Homo sapiens: one gene and its partners. The protein of the gene in region 7 purifies or fractionates together with the protein of the main gene of each other region. This does not show direct contact. Each region holds a gene or a part of one and is shown on either strand. Other genes may lie near its edges. The genes, in order: NEK2, LANCL1, TBC1D10B, KAT14, CDC42BPB, PHF20L1 and SETD1A.

What was found.
Region 1: the proteins of SETD1A (region 7) and NEK2 purify together in Homo sapiens (affinity purification with mass spectrometry, with the first as the bait; one large-scale study listed by BioGRID). This does not show direct contact.
Region 2: the proteins of SETD1A (region 7) and LANCL1 purify together in Homo sapiens (affinity purification with mass spectrometry, with the first as the bait; one large-scale study listed by BioGRID). This does not show direct contact.
Region 3: the proteins of SETD1A (region 7) and TBC1D10B purify together in Homo sapiens (affinity purification with mass spectrometry, with the first as the bait; one large-scale study listed by BioGRID). This does not show direct contact.
Region 4: the proteins of SETD1A (region 7) and KAT14 purify together in Homo sapiens (affinity purification with mass spectrometry, with the first as the bait; one large-scale study listed by BioGRID). This does not show direct contact.
Region 5: the proteins of SETD1A (region 7) and CDC42BPB purify together in Homo sapiens (affinity purification with mass spectrometry, with the first as the bait; one large-scale study listed by BioGRID). This does not show direct contact.
Region 6: the proteins of SETD1A (region 7) and PHF20L1 purify together in Homo sapiens (affinity purification with mass spectrometry, with the first as the bait; one large-scale study listed by BioGRID). This does not show direct contact.

Annotation. Positions count from the first base shown.
Region 1 is NC_000001.11:211,668,952-211,673,229, reverse strand, and holds part of NEK2 (serine/threonine-protein kinase Nek2), read left to right. Parts: intron 1-1,945; coding exon 1,946-2,028; intron 2,029-2,822; coding exon 2,823-2,949; intron 2,950-3,897; coding exon 3,898-4,117; intron 4,118-4,278. UniProt on the Homo sapiens protein: Protein kinase which is involved in the control of centrosome separation and bipolar spindle formation in mitotic cells and chromatin condensation in meiotic cells.
Region 2 is NC_000002.12:210,455,783-210,460,060, reverse strand, and holds part of LANCL1 (glutathione S-transferase LANCL1), read left to right. Parts: intron 1-4,278. UniProt on the Homo sapiens protein: Functions as a glutathione transferase. Catalyzes conjugation of the glutathione (GSH) to artificial substrates 1-chloro-2,4-dinitrobenzene (CDNB) and p-nitrophenyl acetate.
Region 3 is NC_000016.10:30,363,775-30,368,052, reverse strand, and holds part of TBC1D10B (TBC1 domain family member 10B), read left to right. Parts: intron 1-2,458; coding exon 2,459-2,558; intron 2,559-2,840; coding exon 2,841-2,948; intron 2,949-3,046; coding exon 3,047-3,153; intron 3,154-4,278. UniProt on the Homo sapiens protein: Acts as a GTPase-activating protein for RAB3A, RAB22A, RAB27A, and RAB35. Does not act on RAB2A and RAB6A.
Region 4 is NC_000020.11:18,185,116-18,188,730, forward strand, and holds the end of KAT14 (cysteine-rich protein 2-binding protein), read left to right. Parts: intron 1-2,170; coding exon 2,171-2,344; 3' UTR 2,345-2,920; downstream 2,921-3,615. UniProt on the Homo sapiens protein: Component of the ATAC complex, a complex with histone acetyltransferase activity on histones H3 and H4. May function as a scaffold for the ATAC complex to promote ATAC complex stability. Has also weak histone acetyltransferase activity toward histone H4.
Region 5 is NC_000014.9:102,942,009-102,946,286, forward strand, and holds part of CDC42BPB (serine/threonine-protein kinase MRCK beta), read right to left. Parts: intron 3,717-4,278; coding exon 3,654-3,716; intron 2,480-3,653; coding exon 1,883-2,479; intron 1-1,882. UniProt on the Homo sapiens protein: Serine/threonine-protein kinase which is an important downstream effector of CDC42 and plays a role in the regulation of cytoskeleton reorganization and cell migration. Regulates actin cytoskeletal reorganization via phosphorylation of PPP1R12C and MYL9/MLC2.
Region 6 is NC_000008.11:132,813,075-132,817,352, reverse strand, and holds part of PHF20L1 (PHD finger protein 20-like protein 1), read right to left. Parts: exon of another isoform or gene 4,163-4,278; intron 2,717-4,162; coding exon 2,464-2,716; intron 466-2,463; coding exon 277-465; intron 15-276; coding exon 1-14.
Region 7 is NC_000016.10:30,974,261-30,978,538, reverse strand, and holds part of SETD1A (histone-lysine N-methyltransferase SETD1A), read right to left. Parts: intron 1-4,278. UniProt on the Homo sapiens protein: Histone methyltransferase that catalyzes methyl group transfer from S-adenosyl-L-methionine to the epsilon-amino group of 'Lys-4' of histone H3 (H3K4) via a non-processive mechanism.

The DNA of each region.
Region 1 (4,278 bases), on a different chromosome or scaffold from region 7:
ATCATGTTGACCAGGCTGGTCTCGAACTCCTGACCTCAAGCGATCTGCTCACCTCAGTCTCCCAAAGTGTTGGGATTACAGGCGTGAGCCACCATGCCCAGCCAAAACATCTTTTAATGTTAAGCATTCTGAAGCAGGGAAATTGAGTTTTCTGTTTGTTTAGTAATATCTAGTAGCCAAGAATTGAAAATACTGTTATATTTTTCCACATGGACCACCAGACCAATAAAGTCTATATCAGTTTTTGTTTGCTGCATGAGTTATGTGCATTAATGTAAGTATGATGAAGACAGATTCCTAGTCTAAGGTTTGCGCCGTTTGTCATCTCTCACTGGGTTCAATTTTTTGAGCATTCATGCAAATTAAAGCATATTCAGTTCAAGCTTTTATGGAATGACTATGATGCATTAAACTCAAGGATTACAAAAATGAAATGGATTTTGTCCTTGCCCTCAAGAGTTGTTTCCCAATGTGTAGGTCCTAGTTATCTGCATCAGACTCACTTGGAGTGTTTGTTTAAAATGCAGAGTTCTGGGTCCCAAACCCAAACCCAAATCCATCGAGTGAATTTCGATCTCTGGGTGGGTTCTTGAACTCTGTTTTTTTTTTTTTTTAATATTTTACTTTTTATTTTAGACTTTGCATTTAAGAGGCTCTGTAAATGATTCTTGTGTATGCAGAATCAGAGCTCAGGAAGTTTGCTCACTTCAGATAGCATGTTTTTACAATGTTAACTTTTTGTACATTTTATTTTTTTGTTGCCTATCCCTGAAATATCTTGCTGAGTCCACTCACCAATTACCTCTATTGCTGGATATTTTGTTTCCAACATGTTTCACCATTCTTAGAAGTACTGCTCTGCATATCTTTGTATGAATTATTCTTTCTTCCTTTTTGGTTATTTCCTTGGAGTGTAGCTCATAAAATGAAATTGCTGGGGTAAATGTTTATGGCTGTTATTAGATATTGTCTGATGGCTTTTAAAAAGTTTAAGTCAATTGTGATAGCACTAATGTGTTAGTATATAACATCTGAACAGATAAAGATGAAGAAATATTTGTTAGTATTTTAGTAGTTCACCTTTCTAGGATTTTCCAAATATTTATAAATTATGTTAACAGATCTTACTATAGTATAAAACTTTGTAAATTAATGATTTTGGTTTTGACTAAAAATAGCCAGAACAGTACCATTTTCTCACTGTATCAAATTCCAAATAGAATGTTTTTAACATAAAGGACAATTATCCAGAAGTGGTTCTTGGGAAATTTGAAACCTATTCTTTTGTTCCTTTTCCCTCCTGCCCTTGTAATTAGAGTGGTTCAGCTTTCCTAAGGCACTGATTGTCAAAAAGTGGCATCAGACTCACCAGTTGGACTTTAAAACACTAACCAGCCACTAGAGATTGCTTCTATTCCCTCTGTTGAGAATAGGAGCTCTGGTAGGCTGTTGTTACTGTAGATGTGGAAGAAAGGCAAACAATAAAATAGGTAAGGATAATATTAGTTACTACTGTGATTTATGGAGTGGACTAAGACAAAATATAAATGGATAATTCAATTAGCTATTTATGTCTATATCCATTTAAATGTGGACTAGATACATATTTTGACTATTCTTAAATTTCCTCTAGTTCTTTTAAAATGGTGTTTCTTAATTTGCCTTGAGAGTAGAAGTCTCTCATATTCACCTCTGTATTGTCAGTGCCTAGTCTATACTAAGCACTTTCATTTGTGAATGGAAAATGAGTGAATGAATTATGTATGATGGAGTGTATTGGAACAAGATCATTGCCTTTTTTCCATTATAAATTTCAAGATAAAGTATAAGCTAAAAACTTTGAGGTTCTGTTTTTATCTCAGGAGTAATTTAATGTGTTTTTTAAGTTTCAAAACAAAATAAACTCTTAACACCTTCCACTTTCTTACCCTTTTTCCCTGTATAGGAACAAATGAATCGCATGTCCTACAATGAGAAATCAGATATCTGGTCATTGGGCTGCTTGCTGTATGAGTTATGTGCATTAATGTAAGTATGATGAAGACAGATTCCTAGTCTAAGGTTTGTACTGTTTGTCACATTTCACTGGGTTCAGTTTTTTGAGCCTCTGTGCTAACGAAAGTATATTCAAGTCTGAAAGAATTGTACCCTGGGTAAAATTAAGGTAGATAGATGAACAGGCTAAAAGAAACTATTCACAAATTAAAACTATAAGCCATGAGGCTGGGTCTTGACTGTTCAAGGGTCTTGGCTGGTTAGGTGCTTTCTTATTAGATTGACACTTAGCTCAAGGGAGAGCACATAGGTCAGGCAGGTAAGGTAAAGCTACTGTAAGGATGTGGAAGAAATGAAACAAGACTCGGGTAGAGGTCTGGGGATCTGTAGAGCAGGGAAGAGCTCCAATTCTTTTCCTTTGTTCTTCTTTTCATTTTCTTTCCCTTTGAAACTATTCTGTAGAGCAGTGATTCTCAACTAGGGATAAGGGAAGCAAATTTGCCTCTTATGGGGCATTTGATGATGTTTGGATAAATTTTTAGTTATCACAGCTGGGGAGTGCTTCTGGCATCTAGAGGGTAGAGGGCAGGGAGGCTACAAAATACCTATAATGCACAGGACAGCCCCCCACAACAAAGAATTATATGACCTCAAATGTCAATAGTGCCAAGGTTGGGAAACTTACTTATAAGAAGAAAATCCCAGAAGTAGAAACTTAAATACAAACTGGAGCTTAAGCTGTGCTTTTGATTTAGTTCCTATTGTATATTTTCATTTTTACAATTTGAAAATGTCTTCGTCGTCTTCTTCTTCTTTTTTAACCCTAGGCCTCCATTTACAGCTTTTAGCCAGAAAGAACTCGCTGGGAAAATCAGAGAAGGCAAATTCAGGCGAATTCCATACCGTTACTCTGATGAATTGAATGAAATTATTACGAGGATGTTAAACTTAAAGGTAAAGATGATAAGATGATATATTGTCTGTTTCTAGCTGTCAGTTAAGTGTCAGAGCATACATTCTCTCTTGTAGATCAATGGAGACTGAAGAAACGTTAAATATACTTTCTTAGCTAAATTTACTGTGTTAACACAAGTGAAAACATATGTAAATTTGGCAAATTGCACATCCTTGCTGGCCCACCTTCTGCGCTTTCTTTATTTCTCCTCCCACTCTGTCATGCTAACAGATGGTCGGTAGCAAGGAAAGATTGCAAAAAGAATTCAAATTCTCGTTCCCCTTGTCCTTGCCTACCTCACAGTGGCAGGTAGTGAGGGAAGGGGCCAGAAATAAGAGTTTATTACTCTGCCTCTAGCTCTAATTGAGAGATTAAAGACCAGAAGAAGGGGAGGGGTGATGGAGGGCGGACGGAGGACAGCTAAAAACAGAGGGAAAATCAATAAAGAGATTATGTGGAAAAACTCTGGCTATAGAATGGGGAAGGAGATGTTCTGGGGACCAGGCTGACATAAGAGAAGAAGGAAAATGCCGTAGGATCACAGAGAAGGATACAGATGAAGTGACAGGATTGAGAGTCAGTGAGAGAGTATCTTGCTAAATGTAGTTTAGAAATGCAAGGGCAGTACTTCCCCTAAAACAGACCCTAGCAATGCTACCAAGCCCCAGCACAAGATGTGCCAATCTTCAGGGATTGAACCTTCTTAGAAAGGTGAAAAGGGGAAAAGGGAAAAAAGGTAAGTTAACATCTGCATTACCTTGTGGACCCAGAACCTCATGAGTTAAAACCACCAGTGAACTTATTTTTCCAAGTTTTTAAGACCTAGCCATAAAGGAGTCCTTTCTTTTGTCTTGGAAACACATTTTTGTCCTTTTATTTTAACTGCTGTCTTAGGAGGACTATTCTGTTATGCAATCTGACTATAATACTGAGTATTTTTTCCCCAGGATTACCATCGACCTTCTGTTGAAGAAATTCTTGAGAACCCTTTAATAGCAGATTTGGTTGCAGACGAGCAAAGAAGAAATCTTGAGAGAAGAGGGCGACAATTAGGAGAGCCAGAAAAATCGCAGGATTCCAGCCCTGTATTGAGTGAGCTGAAACTGAAGGAAATTCAGTTACAGGAGCGAGAGCGAGCTCTCAAAGCAAGAGAAGAAAGATTGGAGCGTAAGTCTGAATGGGGGTCAAAGCAAAGGAGAACTACCAAGTGGGTTATTTTGATGTGTCTGAATATCTCTTTGAGCAGAATATTTTATACATACAGATCTTATTAGAAGCTTTTGAAAAATACTTGAGAAACCAAAATATGTATTTTAGACTTTTTAATA
Region 2 (4,278 bases), on a different chromosome or scaffold from region 7:
GACACAGCAAGGTCTTGATTGGCCAAAATGAATAGGACTAATGATCCGTCAGAAATTCAAAGGCTTAGTATTAATTACTTCTCAACAGCTGGCTGTATTTATAGTACTGCTTGGCATAAGTTCCTGAGTAAGGAAATTGCAGATTTAGAAGTGTCCCTAAATAATTTACCCTCCCATCCCCAGGGTAGTAGCTACAGGAAAAAAAAAAAAATCTAGTTCACAGCTTTCGTGCTGAAGCCAGGACTGATTCCTATTACAACAGGAATTTTATTTGGTCCTCACAGCATGTTTGTTTGTTTGTTTGTTTGTTTGTTTGTTTGTTTTTAATAGTTATCAACATTTCAAGACCAAGAAATTCTTAGGGTAAACTGACAGGCAGTGCCAGACTTCCTGAACTTCTTGTACGGAATGACATCTATTCCTGGTCTTCAGAGCAGTACTCTCCTTGGAATGTTCTGCAGTAATGGAAATGTTGTTATTTCCATCGCGACAGCCACTAGCCACATGTGGCTATTGAACATTCTAAATGTGGCTAGCATGACTAAGATTGAATTTTAAATTGTGTTTACTTTTAATTAACTTATATTACTGTAGACATTTATGGTTAGAGGGTATCATACTGGACACTGCACTTCTAGATGAACCAGGCAGGTTGCAGGAGTAGTAATTCAAAGTACTATACATCTGGATGTGTAGATTTTCTTCTATGTTTTCTTCTAGTTGTTTTACAGTTTCTGGTCTTAAGTCTAAGTCTTTAGTCCATTTTGAGTTGACTTTTGTATATAGTATAAAATGAGGTTCAAATTTCATTCTTCTGCTTGTGGATATACATAATAGTCATACTTACGAATATGACATTTAGTAACACCATTTATTAAATATAAAATAATTCTAAACTCTAGATCAGTTTAGAGCAGATTTTTACAATTAAGTTCAATCAAAATTTAAATCTCATTCAAGTTTTTTCTGGTCTAGAAGAGAAGATGAAGGGAAGGAAGCATGTCTCCACTCTATTTTTTGCTTAGCAGACAGCACAAAAGGAAATGTAATGTGATATTCAAATTTAAGCCCAAGAATACACTTGGCTAAAACCGGCTTTTGTCACATTTTAAAGTAGATGCATATTCTTTGATAAAAAGATGAAAGAAAATATTAAAAAGATGAAACTGCCTACATCATTCTTTGTCAAAACTCGAACAATTTTGGCTGTTATGTTAGAAGTCAGTAGAAATGTTTTTTCTCATTAAGTGTCCTTCAGAGAATAGAATCATATTTGGGAATGAATTTATTAATGGATACAACTGTACTCTTTCCTCCCAAACCTGATTCTCCAACAGAGGGGTTTGCCATCTCAGTGGATGGCACCATTTTCCATTTAGCTGTTGAAGTTAGTCATCGGGAGGCATTTTGACATCTTCTTCTCCGCCATCCCCCACCAGGTTCTGCTGATTTTACTTTCTAGACAGGTATCTTTCCAGTTCATTCTGACAAGATCTGTATTGCACCACCCACCCTGTGTCTCGCTCCTACTCCTGAAGCATCCTCCTAACTGTTCCTCCTGCATCCACTGTTTCATACACTCCCTTGCAAACCTTACAGTGCAGTTATGGTGAACTTTTAACAAAACAAATCTAAGTATATTCTTCCCACGCTTAAAATGGGTGCATTTCAAATGAAACTCCAAATCCTAACTGGCCTGCTAGACTCTGTGTAATCTAGCTTCTGCCTGCCTCTCTAGCTTTGAGAAGAGCTGTCTTCCTTAGGATTAGGCCTACCAGGACATGGCAATACATCTAAAATAACAGTGGCTTTAACAGAACCGAAGTTTATTTTTCTCTTATGTAAGTAGGCAATCCATGGACTGGTGTGGCAGCTTCACAGTCCTCCAGGATTAGGTGGCTTTGATCTTTGAAACTTTACCACCCTCAGCACAGAGCTTCCAACTCATGGTCCTTAGACGATGACTGCTCTAGCTGCACCATCACATCTGTATTCCAGCCAGGAAGAAAGTAGAAAAGGAAATAAATCGCCAGTGCCTTCCCTTCAAGAACATTTTCCAAAGTTGCCTCCACTACTCCCACTGCATCCTGTTGTTCAGAACTTCGCCACATAGCCATACCCGGCTGTGAAGAAAATTGTTCTTAGCAGCCTGTGCCCAGCTAAAATCCAGGGCATTATTGTTGAGAGAAAGGCAAGATACATTTGGAAAACCACTTACTCTCCATCACAAGAGCTAACTCCTCATTTTCTAGAGTAGAATATGAGTCAGAAATATCTGACATAGAAAACTTAACAGATAGCACATAAGCATATTATTAGAAATAGACAGATACTAGAGAAAATGGCTGAAACTGATGAAAATGGTTGCCTCTGGAAGGCAGGAACACAGTAAACCAGAGGACTGGTGTTTTGCATATTAAATCTTTCAGTACTGTATAATTTTTTCCATGAAGAACATATATATTTTGATAAACATTGCATTTGAAGGCATTTCTAGGCATTGACTGAAGCCAGGCCCACAAGTATGTATTAGGACTGGGTGAATTTTCCCTGCAAAGCCCGTGAAGTTGTGTTTTTATTTCCCACCTTGCCAACCATCCCTGAGTCTTTGGTATTGATTCAAAGGTGGTGGTGTATGCATGGTTATTGTCAACAGTTGAGGACCATAAAGATCAGGTTTAAGACATTTGGCCACAAGCAGTCCTCCCTTTTTTCTGTCATTAGGACACATTCTATTATTTTCTATTATATAAAATACTGATGAGGTATTAAATGTCTGTGACATAATACATTTTGTCTTATTTTCCTGACCTGGGCTGATTTATAATAAGCATGTGCAGGAAACTTTTTCTAATTGGCAGCAGCACTCACCACTTAAAGTCCTTTTCCACCATGGATGTTCTGTGACAGGGAATGTAGACACAGTAAACTATCATCTGCAGAAGATTGCTTATCAAAATCCACAGACCCAGAGGCCCAAATGAGAGGTAGGGGAGAACTGGAACATGAGATTGTGGAATCCCAGAAACTAGAAAGATAATTCTCTGCCTATCAAAAAGAAAGTTTTAATCCAAATGTACTCTTGTGAGACTTGAGAAATGATTACCTGTTTTTCATGAGAAATACACCAAATCTTACAATTGCAAGCCTTAATAGGTTTTGTTTGTTAAATAGTTAAGCCAAGAGGAATTGTTGCTAATGAGAGACAAAGATCTGAAAGAAAAACAATCACTGGGCTTGTGTTTAATCACTTTTTATTTTCTCAGATCTCCATCATGTCATTATCTGGCTTTGGTGCTTACATAACTTAACTAGGAGAGTTCAGGCAGCAATGGGAATAGGAGGGCAAAATGAAAGGTTAACAATTTAAATGGATCACCTGCAGATGCGTGATATGGATGGAGATGAAGCCTATTAAGGACCTAATTTTAGAAGAAGCTCTTGACATCAATCATTTGTGAAAAGGGTTTTTTTTTTTTTCTTACCTACACACAAGGTTTTGTACACTTGTCTACAAACCTTAAGCATTGATGCATCTGATCATCAGCTTGTGGGATTACTAACACCAAGCCACTTTGAAAGAGCAGTCAAGGTTATTAACTTTGGCAGGAAATGAAAATTTGGCCTTAATATACATGTGAAATTGAATTGTCTGTAGCACAAAGCTTTGGAGATTACCCATGCAAAATGAGAAAACTATCTAAATTTAAAATTGTCCTCAGTACAGGGAAAGTAATTTTGCAGACAGCATTTTTACTGCATTGAAATCCGTGAAGATTGGCTCTATTAATTTAAATTTAAACAGAGGTTCTGTGTCTTCTAAAAATCGCAAATGAGATGGAAAATGTACTTCAAGGGAAAAAATGGGTTTCTGGATATGCTGCAGGCAGGCAGGCAGGCTTCCTACTCCACATCTTTGAGTCTGCCCTGAGACCAGTTAGCTTCAGAGGGAAGGCTCTTTCCACTGTGACAGGCATTTGAAATAAGGACATGCAGACAATGCCTCTATTACATATTTCAGGCTTCAAGAGTAGGGTAAGAAACTGATCAAGTAGAGCCCAAGGCAAAAGTCATTGGTGGCTTTTACATTACATTTACCAAAGTAGGTGGGCCCTCGACAGAAAAAAATCTAGGGGTTGAATATTTTTTCTCAGCTATCAAATAACTTTCTTATAATCCCTGCCTGGAAGGATACTGGGGCAGGGGATTTGGTTACATTAACTACCTTTTCACAAAAAAAAAAAAAAAAACACACACACACACAAAACAAACTTTTAC
Region 3 (4,278 bases), 610 kb from region 7:
CAATTAGTGCAGTTGAGTGAATTGTCCCCCTCAAATAATCTGGATCTGTGTGACCAGTGGCTCTCTCCTCAATAGCAGGCTGTCCTGAGGAACTCGGGCTGAACTTAGTTTGGGGGAGTCCCTCTTGTGTGCCAGGCACTATGCCGGGTGCTGTTTCTTTGCTTTGTAGCTTTGTCCCTGTAAGATCAGCTTCAATGCCAGAGAACTCTACCTCTTGGGCAAGACTGACTGTAATCCATGTTACTTTCGCAGCGTTCAGTGGCTCGCTGCTGTCCACAGGATGAAGTTCAGGCTCTTTGGCCTGCGCATAGCCTCTCTGGTCACCTTTGCCACCATTCCTCACCGGGTGCTTTGCGCTGTGGTCCTGCTGAACTAGTTGTAGTCCTTTCCCCTTCATATTCAGGCTGTGCACCTGCCAAGGGTGCTCTTCTCCCCTTTCTTTGCCTGCTAAGTTCTACTCATTTCTTCATGGCTTACCTCAGATGTCCCCTCCTCCAGGAAGCTTCCCTGATACCCACTGCCCCCACTCCAATTAGATGTGTCTTTGGTGCATCTTTGTCATTGCATTTCCCATGCTGTATTACAGTTATCGCTCCTCTTAGGCTGTAACCTTCTTGAGGGCCAGAAGGTATCTTACTCTTCCCAGCCCTTGGTAGAGTTTGTAACCGACTTATGATAGAAATTAATGAGAGATGGTCTCTCTGTTTAAGGAGCTTCTAGAACAAAGGAAACTAACATTTAACGAGCCCCTTCTATTTAACAGATGTTTATATGCAGTTTCTCAATAGTCTTCTCATAACTTTGTGATGTAGGTGGTGGTGGTGTTTTTTTTGTTTTGTTTTGTTTTGTTTTGTTTTTGAGACGGAGTTTTGCTCTTGTTGCCCAGGCTGGAGTGCAATGGTGCGATCTTGGCTCACTGCAACCTCCGCCTCCCAGGTTCAAGCAATTCTCCTGCCTCAGCCTCCCGAGTATCGGATTGAAGACATGTGCCACCACACCCGGCTGAGTTTGCATTTTTAGTAGAGACAGGGTTTCACCATGTTGGCCAGGCTGGTCTTGAACTCTCGACCTCAGGTGATCCGCTTCTCACTTCTGACACCTCCGCCTCCCAAAGTGCTGGGATTACAGGCATGAGCCACCATGCCCGGCCCGGTGGTGTCTTTTTATAATTGAGGAAGGGACTCAGGTCATCCCTTGACAAAGCTCCCTATTGTCTCAGAGACAGAACTGAAATTTGAACTTAGGTAGGTTTGATTCTTAAGACCCAAGCTTTCTTCCGTTCTACTCACCTCCTAGTACTGGCTCCTACAAGTAAGTGTTTGAAGAATGATGGGGCACCATGAGTATGAACCTCTGACAGAACAGTGAGTAAATAGGGCAGGGAGTCCTTTATTTGCCTGGGGTGATTTCAGGGAGGAGGAGGTAGAGTAAATTGCAGGTGACCCAAGGGATCTTAAACATTTGATAGGACAAAACTCAGATGGTTGCGTCTAAAGAGACAGAAGTACATTTGTTCTGTATTTTATTTTATTATTATTATTTTTTTTTTTGATGGAGTCTCGCTCTGTCATCTGGGCTGGAGTGCAGTGGCACAATCTTGACTCACTGCACCCTCCGCCTCCCGGGTTCAAGCGATTCTCATGCCTCAGCTTCGCGAATAGCTGGGATTTCAAGCACGTGCCACCATGCCTGGCTAATTTTTGTATTTATAGTAGAGACAGGGTTTTACCATGTTGTCCAGGCTGGTCTCAAACTCCTGACCTCAAGTCATCCGCCTGCCTCGGCCTCCCAAAGTGCTGGGATTACAGGTGGGAGCCACCATGCCCGGCCTATTTTATTATTTTATTTTTATTTTTTGTAGAGACAGAATCTCGTTATGTTGCCCAGGCTGGCCTTGAACTCCTGGCCTCAAGTGATCCTCTTGCCTCTGCTTCCCAAAGTGCTGGGATTACAGGCATGAGCTACCATGCCTGGCCCTCTAGGGTATTTTATTTTATGGATAGTAAGGTATTACTTAATGGGCACTTCGCTGTGTGTTATTTCGTATAAACCCCTTCGGGTAGATATTGTTACTTTCTCCACCTTACAGATGAGGAAATTGGGCTTAGCAAAATTAAGTGATTTGCCCAAGGTCACACAATGAATAAATGGTAAAGCTAGGACGTGGATCCAGATCTAATGCAAAATGTGGCTTTAAAATACTCCATACTCTCTCCCCAGATTTGGATGTGTCAGAAGTGAGATTTAAATATGACCTCTGAATAGAGATCCATCAGGGAAGGAAGCCCTTTCAGTGTGCCTTGGGATGCCCAAGTGGCCAGACATCCTGATGTTTGGCAGCTCACAGACTATCCAGTTTCTCGTTTGAGCTTGGGGAGGTGGCTTGCCTCAGTTCCCCCTGCAATGCAGGTTTTACACTATTGCTACTGACCCCTTCCGTGCTCCCCCGACCCTGCAGAGAGAGCTCCATTCCCGTGGACGTGGCTCGGCAGCGGGAGCTCAAATGGCTGGACATGTTCAGTAACTGGGATAAGTGGCTGTCACGGCGATTCCAGAAGGTTTGAGGGCTGAATGGTGGGCAGGGCAATGCACAAGTTGGGAGGGGTAGCATGTGCTCCAGGGAAGCCCAGGAAGCCGATAATATCTGCCCTCTGGACCACACTGGGGATAGATGGGCCCTGGCGGGGGAATGGCTTTAAAAATAGAAGTCCAGGCCAGGTCCAGTGGAATCAAGCCTATGGGATGTCGGAGGAGTATCCAGGGAGTTTGTGGACTGCTGGGGAAAGGTTGGAGGCTGTGCCAGCCCTTGAAGCTGTCCCCCTCCTGCCACTTTGCCTTAGGTGAAGCTGCGCTGCCGGAAGGGGATCCCCTCCTCTCTCAGAGCCAAAGCCTGGCAGTACCTGTCTAATAGCAAGGAACTTCTGGAGCAGAACCCAGGAAAGTTTGAGGTGCGTGCAGCTCCAAGGTGTGGGGACATGTGGCCCTGTCTGTGCAAGGGGTATCAGTTCCCCCAGATGCTGAGGTAATCCCCACTGTCCCACTGCAGGAGCTGGAACGGGCTCCTGGGGACCCCAAGTGGCTGGATGTGATTGAGAAGGACCTGCACCGCCAGTTCCCTTTCCACGAGATGTTTGCTGCTCGAGGGGGGCATGGGTAAGGTGGCCGGACCATGGGGGTCAGTCAGCAAACATTGGCTGGAGGATCCACCTTTTAGCTAGGTGGATACAAGACTGAGTCGAAAGTGGTTTTTGCCCTTCAGGACTTGTAGAAGAGCTATCTGTAATGGACTAAGTGTCAAGCCATGTCAAAGGAACTGTCCTGGGAAGGAGACTTGACTCAGGTTGTGTGTGGGGGCACGTCATGGGCTCCTTGAAGAGCTTGCATTTGGGCTGGGTTTTGGAGGGGTGGGAGCTACAGCAGTGGGGCAGGGTTTTCCTGCCTGGGGGTTATGGAAAAGATCACCAGGGACCCTTAAATGCTATGCCAAAGCATTTGGAATTTTGTTCTATAGACCAAGCTTCCTCCAGATGTCAGTATATACTCTTCTCTAGTAGTATGCAAGATGATCATCTTAGGGAGTTCTCTGATGGACTTTTTTTTGTTTTGTTTTTTGAGATGGAGTCTCCCTTTGTTGCCCAGGCTGGAGTGCAGTGGTGTGATCTCAGCCCACTGCAACCTCTGCCTCCCAGGTACAAGCAATTCTCATGCCTCAGCCTCCTGAGTAGCTGGGATTATAGGTGCACACCATCGTGCCCAGCTCATTTTTGTGTTTTTAGCAGAGACGGGGTTTCACTGTGTTGGCCAGACTGGTCTTGAACTCCCAACCTCAAGTGATCTGCCCGCCTTGACCTCCCAAAATGCTGGGATTACAGGTGTGAGCCACTGCGCCTGGCCAGATGGACTTTTTGTTCTTTCTTTTCTTTTTTTTTTTTTTTGAGATGGAGTTTTGCTCTTGTTGCCGAGGCAGGAGTACAGTGGCACGATCTTGGCTCACTGCAACCTCTGCCTCCTGGATTCAGGTGATTCTCCTGCCTCAGTCTCCCAAGTAGCTGGCATTACAGGTGCGCGCCACCACACCCGGCTAATTTTTGTATTTTTAGTAGAGACGGGGGTTTCACCATGTTAGCCAGGCTGGTCTCGAACTCCTGACCTTAGGTGATTCACCTGCCTTGGCCTCCCAAAGTGCTAGCGTTATAGGCGTGAGCCAACACGGTCAGCCGGACAATTTTTTAAATCAATAATTCATCCTTTAGCAAATATTTATTGAGCATCTGCTAT
Region 4 (3,615 bases), on a different chromosome or scaffold from region 7:
TAGGATCATCACCTTCGCAACTCAGAGAAGTGAGGGTAGGACTATTATTTTTATTTTTTTAAATATTTGTAAACATTTTAGCACAACTGTATCAATAAGAATATGTATATATTTTTTGAGACAGGGTCTCATTCTGTCACCCAGACTGGAGTTGCACAATCATAGCTCACTGCAGCCTCAACCTCCTGGGCTCGAGTGATTTTCCCGCCTCAGCCTTCTGGGTAGCCAGGACCACAGGTGCACACTGCCATGCCCGGCTGATTTTTTGTAGGGACAGGGTCTCACTGTGTTGCCTGGTCTGTGCTTGAACTCCTTGGTTCAAGCAATCCTTCCACCTCAGCCTCCCGAGTGCTGGGATTATGGGCATGAGCCACTGTGCCTAGCTACATATTTTATTTTTGCTGATAGTTTGTAATTTTACTATCACTGTATAAGGCTGATATGAACCTTCTAAGATTTGATTCTAGTATTGAATTATAATTCATCCTTTAATATATTTGTATCACCTTTGAAGAAAATACACCATATATCACCATCAAAAAACATGCAAGGATTTTTTTCCCCTAGAATTTTTTTTAGTCAACTTTTACTTAGAAACCATTTGGTATGGAGGATTATATGTTTATGCAGGCAAGATTCCTTTTAAAGAGGAGATGAAGATGATAAAAGTTGTTTCTCCAATTTTTAATGAAACTTGCTTAATAATTCCCAAATGTTGGCAGGAACCTTGGAACCATTTTCCTAGAAATTGCTTTCCTTCTCTCCTTAGGCAGTGATTATGTAAATCACTCACTGAGTAATTAATATGTGCTACTTTGGGTGGTGGTTTTCTCTTGAGAGCTTCTCAGTTATTTCTACAACACTCCCTTTCTCTGCCCCATCCCAACCAAGAGTTGATCTCTCAGTATGCGTCTTTTTAACCTAGGAGAGCACTTAGAGGATTTGCTGCCGTATCTGTCACTGGTAAGGGCCTGAAGACAGGGCACGAATAGTACTCTGTCCTTGTGTGTGTGTGTCCTTGGTGCCCAACATGAGGGCTGGTACAGAGTCAGTCCCTGCTGAGTGTTTGCGAGGCCACTGGAGGAGTGGTTCATCTTTGCAGGTGGGCACCTTCCCCTCCAGCCAGACCATACCCCTGAGGGCCCAAACATAGGTGGCGCACAGTCGCTGGCACTCAATGATGGCCACGGTGAGATCACGTATATTTGCAATCTAGCAAACACCAATATGACCCCACAAAATTTGCTTTAAAAACTCACAAAGTGCTCTTGTCCCTGGCATACTGGTAAGTGCTCTCTTGTCCTAAAAATGCCTATGGATACACATGGAAGTTAAGCAGAGAAAGCAGGTAGCTATCAGATGACTGTCAACAGAGGAGTTCTTAGAGGCCTGAGAGAACCATGGGTTATAAATCTCAAGGACTCTATCAACTTCAGTATTTCAGTGCCTTCTTTATTAAAAAGTAAGTTCTTAAATGATATGACTTTTGGGACACCTTACTCTGTGTAGCTGATTAAAGAATCTAAGGACTTGCCTTGTGTTGATAGAATGATTGTTACTCTTTTCCCCTAAGATTAGGTCAAAGCTGAATGTAGAAATCTCAGTTCTAAGAAGCTAATTCTGTCAGTTTTAGAGAGACAGAAGGTGGACTTTGGGATTCAGAAGGTCTATACAAGGGCCTCAGGTTTTATAATTACATTCTTAATATTTCATGTTTGTGCATGTAATTTAGCAGGCCTAGTAAAGGAATTTTTACAGGTTTTGGGGAGGTACAAGATAACATCTAGTTTTAAAAAGCAAAACTTATTTTGTTTTGTATTTATTCAAGGTTATCATAGTGTTAGGTATTGAAATGTTTGACATATTTAAAGGTAATTGAGTTGTAAATAATAAAGCTGACAATAACAATATCCCCATTGACCCTTTGCTTCAAAGAAAAATAAAAAACACCCAGAATACTATCAGTTTCCTTGGTCTTGTGAATGTTTTGATCAGCAGCAAAATGTCATTCTGTTTCCAGCTGTTGCTAGGTGTTGCAATGTCTCAGCCTCAGTCTCTGATTTCTCCGGTTTCCATAACTAACTGCCTACACTTAAAAGCGTTTCTTTACCTACTCATTTTCCCTCAGGCCTTTCCATTTTTATCTTGTATTTTTCCACTCTTTTGGCAGACCTGCATGGGCAAGGACGTAACCCTTCACGTCTCAGCAAGCAACCCCGCTATGCTACTGTACCAGAAGTTTGGATTCAAGACTGAAGAATATGTATTAGATTTCTATGATAAATATTACCCATTGGAGAGTACAGAGTGTAAACACGCATTCTTTCTGAGGCTCCGGCGCTGATGCGAATACAGCTCACAGAGAAACGCATGTGCTATTGGAGAACAGGTCTTTGTGGAGATCTAAAGGCAGTGATTGATTTCACAGGGAGCTCTAATCTCTGTGATTACATGGTCCTTCAAACTCCCAACCAAAGTGAGAAAAGCGGCATGCAGTGAAATGAGCAGTGAGCAGCCCTTTAGCAAAATCGCCCTCCAGTCCTTCCTGGAGATGCCTTCAGCCAGCATCCCAGACTCCACAGTTATTTATGAATGATGTCGTGATTCTCCCTCCACCTGACAGTTTGTAAGAGTGAAAGAGCATCTAACCTGATGCTCTTGGAGAGAGATAACCTGTCTGTCATAACTTAAAGGATGAGAAAATGTGGTGTAGCTATTAAAGATTCATGCAGTCCCAAAAGGCACTGTCCTGGGATGATGAGAGATTATAAGGTGATTTCATAAAAGGAATCCAACCCTGTGCCCGGCCATTGATGTGTTGTCATTGAATCCAGGAGGATTTCTAGGGCACTGAAGTTTTGTTGTTTCTTTTGCTGACTTTGGTTACAGTCAGAAAAAATAAACTAGATGTTTGTGTCTACATGTTCTACCTGTTGTACCTATTAGCATCTTCCTGCAGGGACTTGGGCCCATGGCCTGGGAGGTTGGTTTGGGATTGGGGTTGTTGGGCAGCCTGCCATTCACCTGGCCTATCCTGGCCCTTCTCATGCCCAAGACAGTTGTTTCACAGGAGTGGAAGTGTGGGTGATGCAAGTAGAACCCTCTAGATGTACCCTGTGTGGTCTGCAGGACTGGACTGTTTGCTGTGTTTGTGGATGTTGGCGATAGACTGTCAATTAGGTTGTTTGTGATCCAACAAGAACATTTCCAAAAGTATCTAGGTGTTCTCAAATAAAAAGCTTTCTTTGCACAACCCATGGCCAGAGCGTCAATCTAGTCAGTTTGCTTTCAAACCCTCTTTAATTAAGATCAGTGGTTCTTAACTTTTTGGGACATGGATCACTTTGAGAATACAAAGAAAGCTGAATACTCTCTAGAAAACTGTCATGCACATTTAAAATTTTGCATCAGGGATCTGTCGACCACAAGTTAAGAACATCTGTTCTAGAAGCTGTACTTGCAGCCAGCTCGAATTCCTTTGTGAGAGAGAATGTGTTGAGCTCCCACATTAAGCCAATCTGGAAGCTGTTCAGTCATCTGGGGAAACAGTTGAGGCTCCATTTCATTTGTGAGAGGAACTGTAGCAGCACTGTCTTATCTATTTCTTTCCTTTTC
Region 5 (4,278 bases), on a different chromosome or scaffold from region 7:
GTGTGGCCAAGATTATAAATACATTGCACTAAGTGACCTGGGCCCTCTTCAACGTTACGCTTTGCAAAAATGTAAATCCTGTGTGGTTTTAAACCCTGTGCTGGCTGCCTATGAAGAGGACAGGGTGTTGGGGGGTAAGAGTCCAGGACAAGGGGTGCTGAGGCAGCGGGACTGGCCCCTTCCTGCACCTCACCGCAGGCCCACGGCCCAGCCCCACTGCCCACACATGTCTGCTGTGGTGTGGCCATCGGGATGGAGCCGGGACACACTGCAGTAAGCCCGTGGGTGGAGCTGGCCGTGCACCTCACAGGCCTGGTGTCTAGCCACGACGCCCTGGGTATGATGCCGTCTCAGCAAGGCTGACAATGGGGCAGACAAAGGGGTTTAGCTTCAGGTAACTGAGGGAGAATGTCATTCCCCAACTCTTGGCCTGTTACCCCCATATGCGCGGCTCGTCTTCCTCCCGGCCTCCTCTTGATCTGTGGATTTGATGGTGCAGGCCACTCTGATAGATCAGAGGGATTCTGAGGTTTAAGGTTTCCTTTCTGTTTTAAAAGACAGGGTCTCACTCTGTCTCCCAGGCTAGAGTGTAGTGGTGTGATCATGGCTCACTGCAGCCTCCATCTTCTGGGCTCAAGCAATCCTCCTGTCTCAGCCTCCCAAGTAGCTGGGACTACAGGCATGTGGCACCGTGCCTGGCTAGTTTGTTTGTTTGAGACGGAGTCCTGCTCTGTTGCCCAGGCTAGAGTGCAGTGGCGCGATCTTGGATCACTACAACCTCTGCGTCCCGGGTTCAAGCAATCCTCCTGTCTCAGCCTCCTGAGTAGCTGGGACTACAGGCATGTGGCACCGTGCCTGGCTAGTTTGTTTGTTTGTTTAAGACGGAGTCTCGCTCTGTTGTCCAGGCTAGAGTGCAGTGGTGCGATCTCAGCTCACTGCAACCTCTGTGTCCTGGGTTCAAGCGATTCTCCTGCCTCAGCCTCCTGAGTAGCTGGGACTACAGGCGCCCGCCACCACGCCCGGCTAATTTTTTTTTGTATTTTTAGTAGAGATGGGGTTTCACCCTATTAGCCAGGATGGTCTCGATCTCCTAACCTCGTGATCCGCCCTGCCTTGGGCTCCCAAAGTGCTGGGATTACAGGTGTGAGCCATATTTTGTTATTTAGTAGAGATGAGGCTGGTATTGAACTTCTGAGCTCAAGTGAGCCTCCTGCCTCAGTCTCGCACAGTGCTGGGATTACAGGTGTGAGCCACCGCTCTCCACCCGGTTTAAGGTTTTAAAAGCAATCGGACAGCGGGCCAGTCGGGAAGTGTCCACTGGTCCTACCTGTTCCCCAGTGCCACCATTCATAGAGAAAGTCATGCCAACTAGGCGAATTCAGTGACCCAACTGTTTGAAAAACAGCCCCTACCACTTTCAGAAAATACTTGTCCTTAGAGGGACTGTAACTTAAGACACCAGAGGTGAATTATTTTCTGGCCACCAAAACCCCTCAAGCTTGTCTTTACTACTGTGTAAGTTTCTGTATTATCACGAGGAAGGCCTTTTAAATGAGAGATGAATGCCACGCCCCGTTCTCGGTTCGCCGAGCCCTTCTGCCCAGGGGCCTATGCCCGCCGACGGGGTCCTCTGCTGAGGCCTCTGGAAGAACCGGCCCCATGTGCTCAGGGAGAGAGGTTGCTGAGCCCGCCTACTGCTGGTCTGAGACGTGAGATCTGAACCATGCTCTCTGCTGCGGGCTGGCATGGGGCCCACCTCTCCCGATGCTCTGTGACTACTCAACTAAGGGACTGGAAGACAAACCAAAGCAAAATCGAACACATGCTGACTGTCGGTGGGAAAAGCAGCAACAGGGATATGCAACAGAAAACATATACATACTACAGGCGACAGGAGCCGCAGGCCACATGAGCTCCTGCGCGCGTGCCCTCCGGCCTTGCGGGTCCACGTACAGTCCCATGTGGCTGAAGCAAAGCAGGTACTCCTCGCTTTCGAGCTCCACAGCACAAAGGGCATCAAAAGACTGTTGTGAGAGGAACGCAAGCGAGGGGTCATTGGGATTTACCAGGTTTAGAGGCTGCCCGTCCCCCTGGATGCTCAGCAGGCAGAACCCAGAAGGGTAGCCCACACAGAGCCTGTCCCTGAGCACCGCCAGGCACTGCACGCTGCCGGGAGCCACAATCTCATTGAACTTTCTGTGGAATGGCTTCGTTCTCTGGATCTCATAGCAAAGGATCAGCCGTTTCACGGCCACAAACAGGCAGGTGCCAGAGTTCCTCTTGAGTGTGGCCGTGGCCATGAGCTGGCAGCCTTTGGTTTCCGGAAGCTTGATGTCAAAGCTGCCTTCCGCTCCATCAAGGGACGACCACGGATAGAGGTGCACATGGTGGTTCCGGCCACAGAGGAGGATTACGATCTTCTCCCTGGGAGCAAGCTCGATCTGGTGTACCTTCTTACAGTCAGCGGCACGGACGATCACTGTGGCAAGGAGGACAAGAGCGTGAGGCCGACGGGACAGCCAGCAGCTCCCAGGGGCTGACGGCCTTGGCTAAAGACTTGCCTGGAACACTCTGGGGCCCTCCCCTGGGCTCCCTTCCTGTGTGCACAGCCTGAGCCCGGCCCTGAGCCCGTCTCTGCCCACAGAGCCAGTGGCTTGAACGCCCCCCGGAGAAGCTGCCCCACATCCACAGCGCGCTCCTGGGGCAGCCTCGGGGGCTGGTCCAAAGGCTCCTCTGCCTCTGCTGCTGTGCACACCCCTCAGTGCACCAGGGCTCCAGCTGGGCAGCGCTTCCACCTGGGTCCTCGCGCAGCAAGGCCCTGGGGTGATCTGGGCCTCCTTCCAGCTCATCCCCGAACCAGAGGGCCCTCACGCTGCACATGAGGGACAAAGAGCTGTCCCCAACCCACTGGGACCCTGAGACAAATCCTCTGAAGACGCTGCCCTCACAGGGCCCCCAGTGAAGACACTGCCCTCACACTCACACGGCCCCCAGTGAAGACGCCGCCCTCACACGGCCCCCAGGCTAACCCAAGCCCCTCGCTTGCTCAGATCTCCCCACAGAGCTGCCAGGGTACGGCCTCGCCCAGCGGCTGCCCCGCCCTTCTCGCTCCACGGCCATCACATGCAGAGATGCTGGGTCTGTCGGGAAAGGACTATGGCTCACATGAAATGTCGCTGGATTCCTTGAGGGATGCTCCCCTGGGCCCCTGCCCCCTGCCCATGGCCAGTTCCAGTCTCCTGACGTTTCTGCTCCTAGACCCAGGGCTGTGGAGCGGGTGCATGCCAGGATACCTTTGCCCTTCCTCGCTGGGAAGACTGAAGTGTCAAAATTGGAAGCAAAGAAACTAAAGCTTCTCAAGTGAAGCCTCAGCACATGTGGGAAAGCTGCAGCTGTTCCTCCTCCCAGGGGGCTTTCCTTGACCCCCCACCCACTCCCGCTCAGTGCTCCCCTTGAAGAACTCGATGGATGTGATACGCAACTTAGCACCGCGTCGCCATGCACTCGATGCCGGTCTTCACGGCACGCTGGCCCCTCCGGCGCCTTCATCAAGCGCATTTGTCTTAACCCTTAGGAGCTACTGACCCTGTGCTGTCTGCAGAGGCCAGGCTGGGCCTGTGACATCCCAGGCTGGAAACGCCCTGCTCACTCACCATCTCGGGTGACCTCTATGACATAGAGCCCTTCTTCTAGGCCGACTGCAATCCTGTCTGCATCTGTGGAGGGGTAAGTAACATACACAAAGTCAGTACAGCCGACCGTGAACAATATGGGTTTGAATGCGTGGGTGGGCTCATTCACAGATACTTTTCAACCATATGTGGATGAGAATACAGCATTCCAGGGATGTGACACTTCAGTATCGGGGGTGACTTTCTCTCTACACGAACTCCACAGGGCCGGCTGACTGTGGGATTGAGTCTGCAAGGATTTGGGTGTGTGTGGGGCTCCTGGAGCTGACCCTCAGGCTTAGCCGGGGCCAACTGTACTGTCCGCACAGGTCATCTGCTTTTTTTTTGAGACGGAGTCTCGGTCTGTCGCCCAGGCTGGAGTGCAGTGGTGTGATCTCGGCTCACTGTAAGCTCTGCCTCCTGGGTTCATGCTGTTCTCCCGCCTCAGTCTCCCAAGTAGCTGGGACTACAGGTGCCCGCCACCACGCCCAGCTATATTTTATTTTTATTTTTATTTTTTTTTTTAGCAGAGACAGGGTTTCACCGTGTTAGCCAGGATGGTCTCAACCTCCTGACCTTGTGATCCGCCCGCCTTGGCCTCCCAGAG
Region 6 (4,278 bases), on a different chromosome or scaffold from region 7:
TGCAACATCAGGCACTACACAAAATAAAGAGTGTAATGTAATATTAACACAGATAAAATGGCTCAGTTACTATCACTGTGAATTAAAGTGTTACATAATTTAAACAGTGCCTGGCACAAAGAAGGCACTCAATAAATATTTGTAGAATAAGTGAAGTGCTTATAACTCCAGAAGATATAAGAGCAGAAATATCTTAATATTTTAATAATCTTTATCTCTTAGTTTTTTCTTTATCTTCTTTTATGTTTGGTTCTATAGGAAATCAATATACATTACCCTCTGGTACTGAAGATTCTTGCTGATTTTGAGAACTGATGGAGAATACTTTCCCATCAGTGGCTGGAGAGGGAGAAGAAACCTTTTCTACAGAATCATCAGGCATGGGTAAGGTGGCTAAACGCTGAGATCTTCTTCTCCGCTCACTATGCTTGAAAGGTCTAGGGGGATTCACAGGCTGTGGAGGACCTAGAAAAAGATCTTCAATGTTCACGAAGCAGATACATACCAGGAGCATCTTACAATATTTAAGGAGATAAATGGGAAAAAATGATTTATATTCTTCCCTCTGATGTTGTTATAAGATATCCACAAGGAATGGCATGTTCCAAAGGTAATCAAAGGCAAAAATTGTGCCCTCATTCAAAATGAGTCAATCAAAAATTGTAAAATCTACACTCTACTAGAACTAAAAGAAAATAAAATGGAACATTAATTTCAAGTAGCTCCCCCAAGTGACAGACTACAGTTAATTTCTCTAATTGCAGATCGTTGTGTAAATTGCCATTTTTCCTTCGGGAAAATAGTCTCTTTACAGCAAAAGATAAGGAAAAATATATATATATGTATTCCTTTTGCTACATTGCAAATCTAGAAACTCTAAGGGAAAAAAAGGCAGGGACAAAGATGATACAACATTATAGAGTTAGTGATTTACTTTACACTAATGTAAATAATTTTATCCCATCATCATCCCCCCCAAATGGAGTTTTATAAACATGTCTGGGCCTGATTCATTAAAAAAAAAAAATGAACAAAAACAACTTTGTATACTTATTGTGAGCAAATAATGAGGATATTTAAGATTATGACATTGTGTACTTGTGTTTTTTAACAACTTGGTAAGTAATTTAGGCATCTTCTAGCAATATAATATAAATATTTGGAAATGTCTCTCACACTTTTAGATATCTTCTTTCTACATGGCATACAAACACATTTGACTAGAATAGGCAAGATTATATATGCCAATATATTCATGTTAATTTAGAAAGAGGAAATAAGAACAGTCTAAAGACATTGATGTTTGGGTATTTAAGAGTAATTTTACAATCAAAACGAAAAAGACATGCTGATAACTTAAAAATATGAAAGAATAAAATTTAATTGCTATAATATTGTGGTTATAATACCAAGATATAATTTCCAAAATAAAATGTTTATTAATGTCATATGACATTCCAGTGACTACTACTGACACTATTTCATGATAAATGCCATAATGAAATGAAGCTTATTAGGAAAACAATTGAATTATGTTCCCATTCTTTCCACCTATTAAAAAGAAAAAGCAAAACCTGATCAAAATGAAAAAATGATTCAGTAGAAAATATGGCAACTGAAGGAAAATAGGTTAATAAGTTTGATAAAAGTCTTCTGAATGCCAACATCTTTGATTATTCTGGAAGACACAATATGGAATAAGGAAACATGTCATATTCACTCAACTGATCATGTATTTCATTTTTTGCATAAAGAGCAAAAAAAACCATCATTTACCAACTGACTTTTCAAATAACTGTTATTCATGTCTCCAACTTAGGATACTAAACTAATATGAGAAACTCAGGGTCAACACAAATCTTGTATTATTTATATATACAGATATATAGGGAGATAGATAGATATACCCATGTGAAAGGTGTTTTCGAAAAAGACTGCGTTAACTCTTGAAAAATTAGAAGTACTGAAACAGTAAAATCTTTAAAAATACAATCATGGGGGCATTTTTTTTTCATTAAAAAGATTAAACTGAAGTCTAGACTATAAATATTATAATAAGAATGAATAAAATGTATTGCAGAGGAAAGTTATAGACAAGTGGGGACAAAAAATCTACAGGAATAGTCTTAAGTAAAAATAGCTATCCTGGGTCTTTTTATAACTTTTTTTTTTTGTAATGAATCAGGCCTCTCAGTATGCTTGGATTATGAGTTGAGGAGAGTCAAACTACAGTGGAATCTGTGTTATTAAATGGAAAGGATTCTCAACCAGCAGTAGTCTCTAAGCAATAAATCAGTAAGAAATGTCTATGGTTTTTGCCCCTGAAATAGTTTCAAGCCTTCCCTATCATATCCACTTGAGTTTTTAAAAAGCAACTTCATAAAAATACAATATAACTACAATCAAACTGTTTTTAATGTATCTTATAGGATAAATAACTATTTTTTAAAAATCTGTGCTCACTAGTTTTATTTATCACTGAAGAAGAAAGCTGAGATACAAGCGTCAAATCCTCGACTTGTATTAATTCTGGGGAAAGTGGTGATTTAGGGGGTTTTATACACCCAGAAGAATCTCCAGATTCATGTTTGCATTTCTTGCTGCGAGCCTTCCCTGAAGACAAAGTTGAGGATAACAGTGCAGGTTTCTGAGTGTTGGCAGAACTGCTAATGTCAGCTTCATTTTTTTTCTGACTTTGAGGTTTAGGTGAAATCGCCTGAATAAATAATAAAAAATTGATATTTTTATTTTGGCTTCTTCATTTTTGTTCTTGTATTCTATTTTGACTGTTAAGCAACTTTAGTATCCAGAAACATTGTTAAGCAACATATAACATTTCTATTACAAATGAAAAACCAAAAAGAACCCCACAAATTATTAACTAAAAGTTGAATAGGCTGTCTTTAAAGGGATGCTGTCAACTTTCAGTCTAAATTCATTTTTTAAAATATATTATTCATAATATTTTCGGAACATAAAATGTTATCTTACTGGACAAATATTTTCAGTATTAAATAGAAATATACCCCTTTAGGAACCATAATTGCCAATGACAATAATTCGAAAAATAAACAGCATTTTCATGTTTTAAAGGATTAGAGGAATACATTTAAGCTTTTGATTTTAGATGTTTTCTTATAAAATCTTTTCTTTTAAGTTGAATGTAAAGGTCTAAGTAGACAGATTCCCTTTAAAGAAAGATCTGAACAGGAAAAACAATGACCAAATTAACAAAACATTATCTTTAACTCATTTTAGTGCTGAAAGCTAGAGTTTCATAAGCACAATGCATCATGAAATCAGAGCCACCAGCAATATAGAGTTAAAAGACTAAAAAACAATACAAAACAAGCAACAACAACAAAAAAAAAACCAAAGAGATAAAGTGTAAGTTAAAAACATTGGATTTAAAAACAAAATACGTCGCATTCTTAGATGAGAGTTTTTACCTTCTTCCTGCCAACTGATACTTTTAAAAAAAAATTAGAACTTTGTCAGTTCTTTCATAAAAGATCATTTTTATTCATTTGGCTGTAAAATTTCCTACATATGTTAAAATATGTGTGAATGTGTCCATTTTTCAAAACAAGAGAAAATAACTACATTGGATGAATTTGCAATCTATGGTTCTGCAATACTTCTATCTCTTTCTGATATACTTATCTGAGAGCAAAATATATAATATGCATTTTTTGAAAATCTATTCTACCATAGGCCTTTATAAAGAATCAGACTGCTAGCACTATAAACAACATGCTTGTCCCCAAGAAATCTTTTTACTTCCATATCTTGTGGAGAATAACTATCAGGTCTGCTGTCTGCAGTTCTCTGGAATATGAACGATCATTTTCTGGGGACTAAATAAATAAATAATTCTGTTCCCACTGAGATACAAGTCAAATTTTGCTGGGGAAGAAAAGTGCATATTTGGTATTAAGTAGGGCACCTTCAATGCTCTATAGACAGCATGTTGGACATACCACATAAAAGGCCTGGTGTCAAGTGTCCCATTCATTCAGTTGTCATCATTTCTATTATTGAATTTACTCATTATAAATGTGTATAAGTGCAGATTAATTATTTGAAAAGGTACTTCATAAATGGATAGTATTCCTAACCTTATTATAAAAGGTGTTGCCAGAAAAGTAATTAGAGCCATTACTTGTAAATAAACAATTTTATTGTTCATCTTCACATATGTGAAAGACATCACTACAGCATCCATTACTCTCAAGTTACAAAGTTATAAAACAAGATTTTAAAACTTAATATCTTGAT
Region 7 (4,278 bases):
CAGGGCTGGAGTGGAGATCCCAGGATGCGGGTGGCTGGGGAGGGAACACACTGGCTCCGAGCTGGGGGTGCTGCCTCCCCAGCGTACCCTCAGGACGGGGAGTGCATCCTCCCTTGGCCGCCATCCCTGGGAAAGCCTGCATGAGGCTCTCAGAGCCAGCCCAATGGATTTTGTGCCTAACACCAATCACACCTCTTACGTAGAGTAACTCATGTAATCCTCACAACAGCCCAAAGAGGTTCCTATCTTTTTTTTTTTTTTTTTTTGAGATGGGGTCTCGCCCTGTCGCCAGGTGGGAGTGCAGTGGCGCAATCTCGGCTTACTGCAACCTCCGCCTCCCGGGTTCAAGCGATTCTCCTGCCTCAGCCTCCCGAGTAGCTGGGACTACAGGCATGCACCACCACACCCAGCTAAGTTTTGTATTTTTAGTAGAAGCAGGGTTTCACCATGTTGGCCAGGATGGTCTCGATCTCTTGACCTCGTGATCTGCCCGCCTCGGCCTCCCAAAGTGCTGGGGTTACAGGCGTGAGCCACTGTACCCAGCAGAGGGTCCTATCTTACAGACAGGAAAACTGAGGCACAGAGATGTGGTCAGTTACCAGATGACAGAACAAGCTCTGCTCCCAGGCCATGTGGGTTGAGCTCATGCTCTGAACTGCAGCCCACGGACTCACTGGCTTCACAACTGGCTTCCCCGCTCAGCGCCAACAGGGCCGCCGGCACCAGGCCCGGCCCTAGGAGGCAGCGATTCACCTGAGTCCACCGCACTCCCAACCCTGGCGCCCTGAGCCAGGCTCTTGGCTGCACCTTAGGCTCTAGACACCCGCTGGGGTCTCAGCCTGTGGCAGCAACCCACTCCAGGAAGCCAGTGAGGACCCAGATGCATGCAGGCCTCCTCTCACCTTCCTCCCCACCACGCTGGGGCAGCGCCCCCTACAGACCACCTCACGCTTCAGCATGCATGTCCTCGGGAAGCCTCGCTCGAAGAACACACTCCTCCACCAGCACAGCTGCTGCACACACACTTCCCTCTGCGACTGTCCCAAAGGGAACCTGCCCATCCCTCTCATTTAGGAGACAACTTTTGGGGGCACCTGCCCAGTCAATATGACTCCCACCACCTTCCTCTGAGAACTGCTCTACTGCCACGCTCAGGTCCATGGGGCGAGGCCCCAGAAGCCAGTTCCTACTGCATAACCTGCCCCTCCCCAGGGCCATCACTAACATCCCCAGGCGGCAATCACTAAGACGGTGGTGACTGAAACTGGTTCTGGTTATTAGAAACTCGGTGAGCTGGCCGGGCGAGGGGGCTCACGCCTGTAATCCCAGCACTTTGGGAGGCCGAGGCGGGTGGACCATGAGGTCAAGAGATCGAGACCATCCTGACCAACATGGTGAAATCCCGTCTCTACTAAAAATACAAAAATTAGCGGGCGTGATGGCGCGTGCCTTAGTCCCACCTACTCGGGAGGCTGAGGCAGGAGAATCACTTGAACCTGGGAGGCTGAGGATGCAGTAAGTCGAGATGGCACCACTGCATTCCAGCCTGGTGACAAAGCGAGACTCCATCTCAAAAAAAAAAGAGAAGAAACACAGTGAGCCTTCACTAAGCACCCCTTGCTCTGAGCCACGGCTCCTCTGTCCTCGGTAACTCAGACTCCCTTGTCGTGCCCTCTCACTATCCAGACACCAAGGGGCTGCCTGCATCTTCCTCTCCTCTTCCACCTCTGCCACCTCCCCAGGGGACTTGGCAATCACGCCTGTTTACCTGGATTCTTGCATCTCCAGTGATCCCCTTCAATCACCCTCAGCTCCCCTCAAGCAGCCACACACCTGGCCTTGTCAATCCCAGAATGGCTCCGCCTTGGAGATTCCCCATCCTCTCCAACATTCCCCACTGTCCATTCAGTCTGCCCCACTGCACCTTCAACTTCCCATCCTTCAGTTTCCCTCTAGCACATCACCCTCTTCCCAACTTCCTCCTCCACCCTGCCCAGACCCCAGGGCCCGTACTTTGCCCTCTCCTGTCCCAGCACAGCCCCAGGTCCTCATCATTCCACCACACCTTTACCCTGTGGAGCCAGCCAGCAGCCTCTTCTCCCCTCACTCCCAGGCCCCAGCTCTGGCAAGGCCTTCCAGCATGGGGAGGCCCAGGCGAGAGGCTTGCTCTGTCTCCAGGATACAGTGCAGCGGCACAATCACTGTTTACTGCAGCCTCCTCAACCTCCTAGGCTCAAGCAATCCTCCCGACTCAGCCTCCCCAGAAGCTGGGACCACAGGCATGTGCCACTATGCCTGGCTTTTTTTGTTGTTGTTGTTAGCCAGACTGGTCTCGAACTTCTGGGCTCAAGAGATCCTCCTGCCTCGGCCTCCCAAAGTGCTGGGATTACATGTGTGAGCCACCGCGCCTGGACTGGAGCAACTTTTCTCCACTTTCCAAGGTTCTTACTCCACTCTTCCTCTCACAGTCCTACAGCAACAGGGTCAAAAGAGGACTCAGGCACAACACCCCCATCTCCCTGCCTCCCCACCGAAGGGTATAACTGCATCAGATCTGGAAGCTACTCCTCCACCTCCCCAAAAAGGCCATGCCAGCAAGCATTCCTCTCTCCCGGCACATCTACCTGGCCCGTTCCCTTCAGTGGAACATGCCCAAACCTCATCTACTTGGAAAAGCTAACCCCTCCCTCAACCCTGCCCTCTCTTCTTGCTCTCCCTCCAGCTCTGGCTGGTAACCTTAGTTTGTTCCTGCATCTCACTAAGCCTTGAAGCCCTCATCTATAAAATGGGAATCACAGGGAGGTTGTGGGGCAAGCGCAGTGGCTCACACCTGTAATCCCAGTACTTTGGGAGGCCAAAGTGGGCTGATAACTTGAGGTCAGGGGTTTGAGACCAGCCTGGGCAACATGGTGAGACCCTGTCTCAACTAAAAATACGAAAATTAGCCAGGCGTGGCAGTGTGCACCTGTAATCCCAGCTGCTTGGGAAGCTGAGGCAGGAGAATCACATGAACCCGGGAAGCGGAGGTTGCAGTGAGCCGAGATTGCACCACTGCACTCCCGGCTGGGTAACACAATGAGACTCCATCTCAAAAAAAAAAAAAAAAAAAAGGGAGAGGTTGTGGGGATTCAATGAGAAAATGAATTGTCAACATGCTATGCCTAGAGCCTGGCACACATAGGTACTTGACACATGGGAGCTGATATCACAACCCCCAATTCTTTTTTTTGAGACGAAGTCTCGCTCTGTCGCCCAGGCTGGAGTGCAGTGGTACAATTTCGGCTCACCGCAACCTCCACCTCCCAGGTTCAGGTGATTCTCCTGCCTCAGGCTCCTGAGCAGCTGGGATTACAGGCGCCTGCCAGCATGCATGGCTAATTTTTTTTTTTTTTTGGAGACAGTCTCGCTCTGTCACCAGGCTGGAGTGCAGTGGCACGATCTCGGCTCATGGCTACTTCTGCTTCCCCGGTTCAAGCGATTACTCCTGCCTCAGCCTCCCGAGTAGCTGGGATTACAGGCATGTGCCACTATGCCCAGCTAGTTTTTGTATTTTTAGTAGAGATGGGGTTTCACCATGTTGGTGCTGGCCAGGATGGTCTTGATCTCTTGACCTCGTGATCTGCCCGCCTCAGCCCTCCCAAGTGCTGGGATTACAGGCGTGAGCCACCGCACCCAGCCTAATTTTTGTATTTTTAGTTAAGATGGGGTTTCACCATGTTGGCTAGACTGGTCTCGAACTCCTGACGTCAAGTGATCTGCCCACCTCAGCCTCCCAAAGTGCTGGGATTACAGGTGTGAGCCACTGCGCCCGGCCCCAACTCTCCTTTCTATCTCAGCAAGAGTGGTCCACCCTTCCAGAAAACTGCCCTCCCCTCATTCCTTAACACCCTGTAACTTGGCTTCAGTCTGAACCACTCAACTGAAATTGATAAGGTCACCAATGACCTCCTAACTGTCAAATGCAACAGATACTTCCTATCTCAGCCTTGCTGGTGGCCTGGTGATACAAGGCCACTCCCTGCTTTGCAGAGCCTCTCCACTACCTGCTTCCCTTCTCGCCTCTGGTCACCGCTCTCAGCCTCCTCGGGCCCTGCTTGCCCACTGCTCTCACAGGATGGGAAGGCTCTGCCCTTTCTCTCCCCCCACTCGCCTACCTGGGTCTATAGGTGAATTCACTGCTACACTTTCAAGACCTAAGCACCGACCTCATATCCAGCCTACCGTTCTTTCCAGACCCCAGATCCATGGATCCAACTGCCACTGTTTCTACTGGGAAGC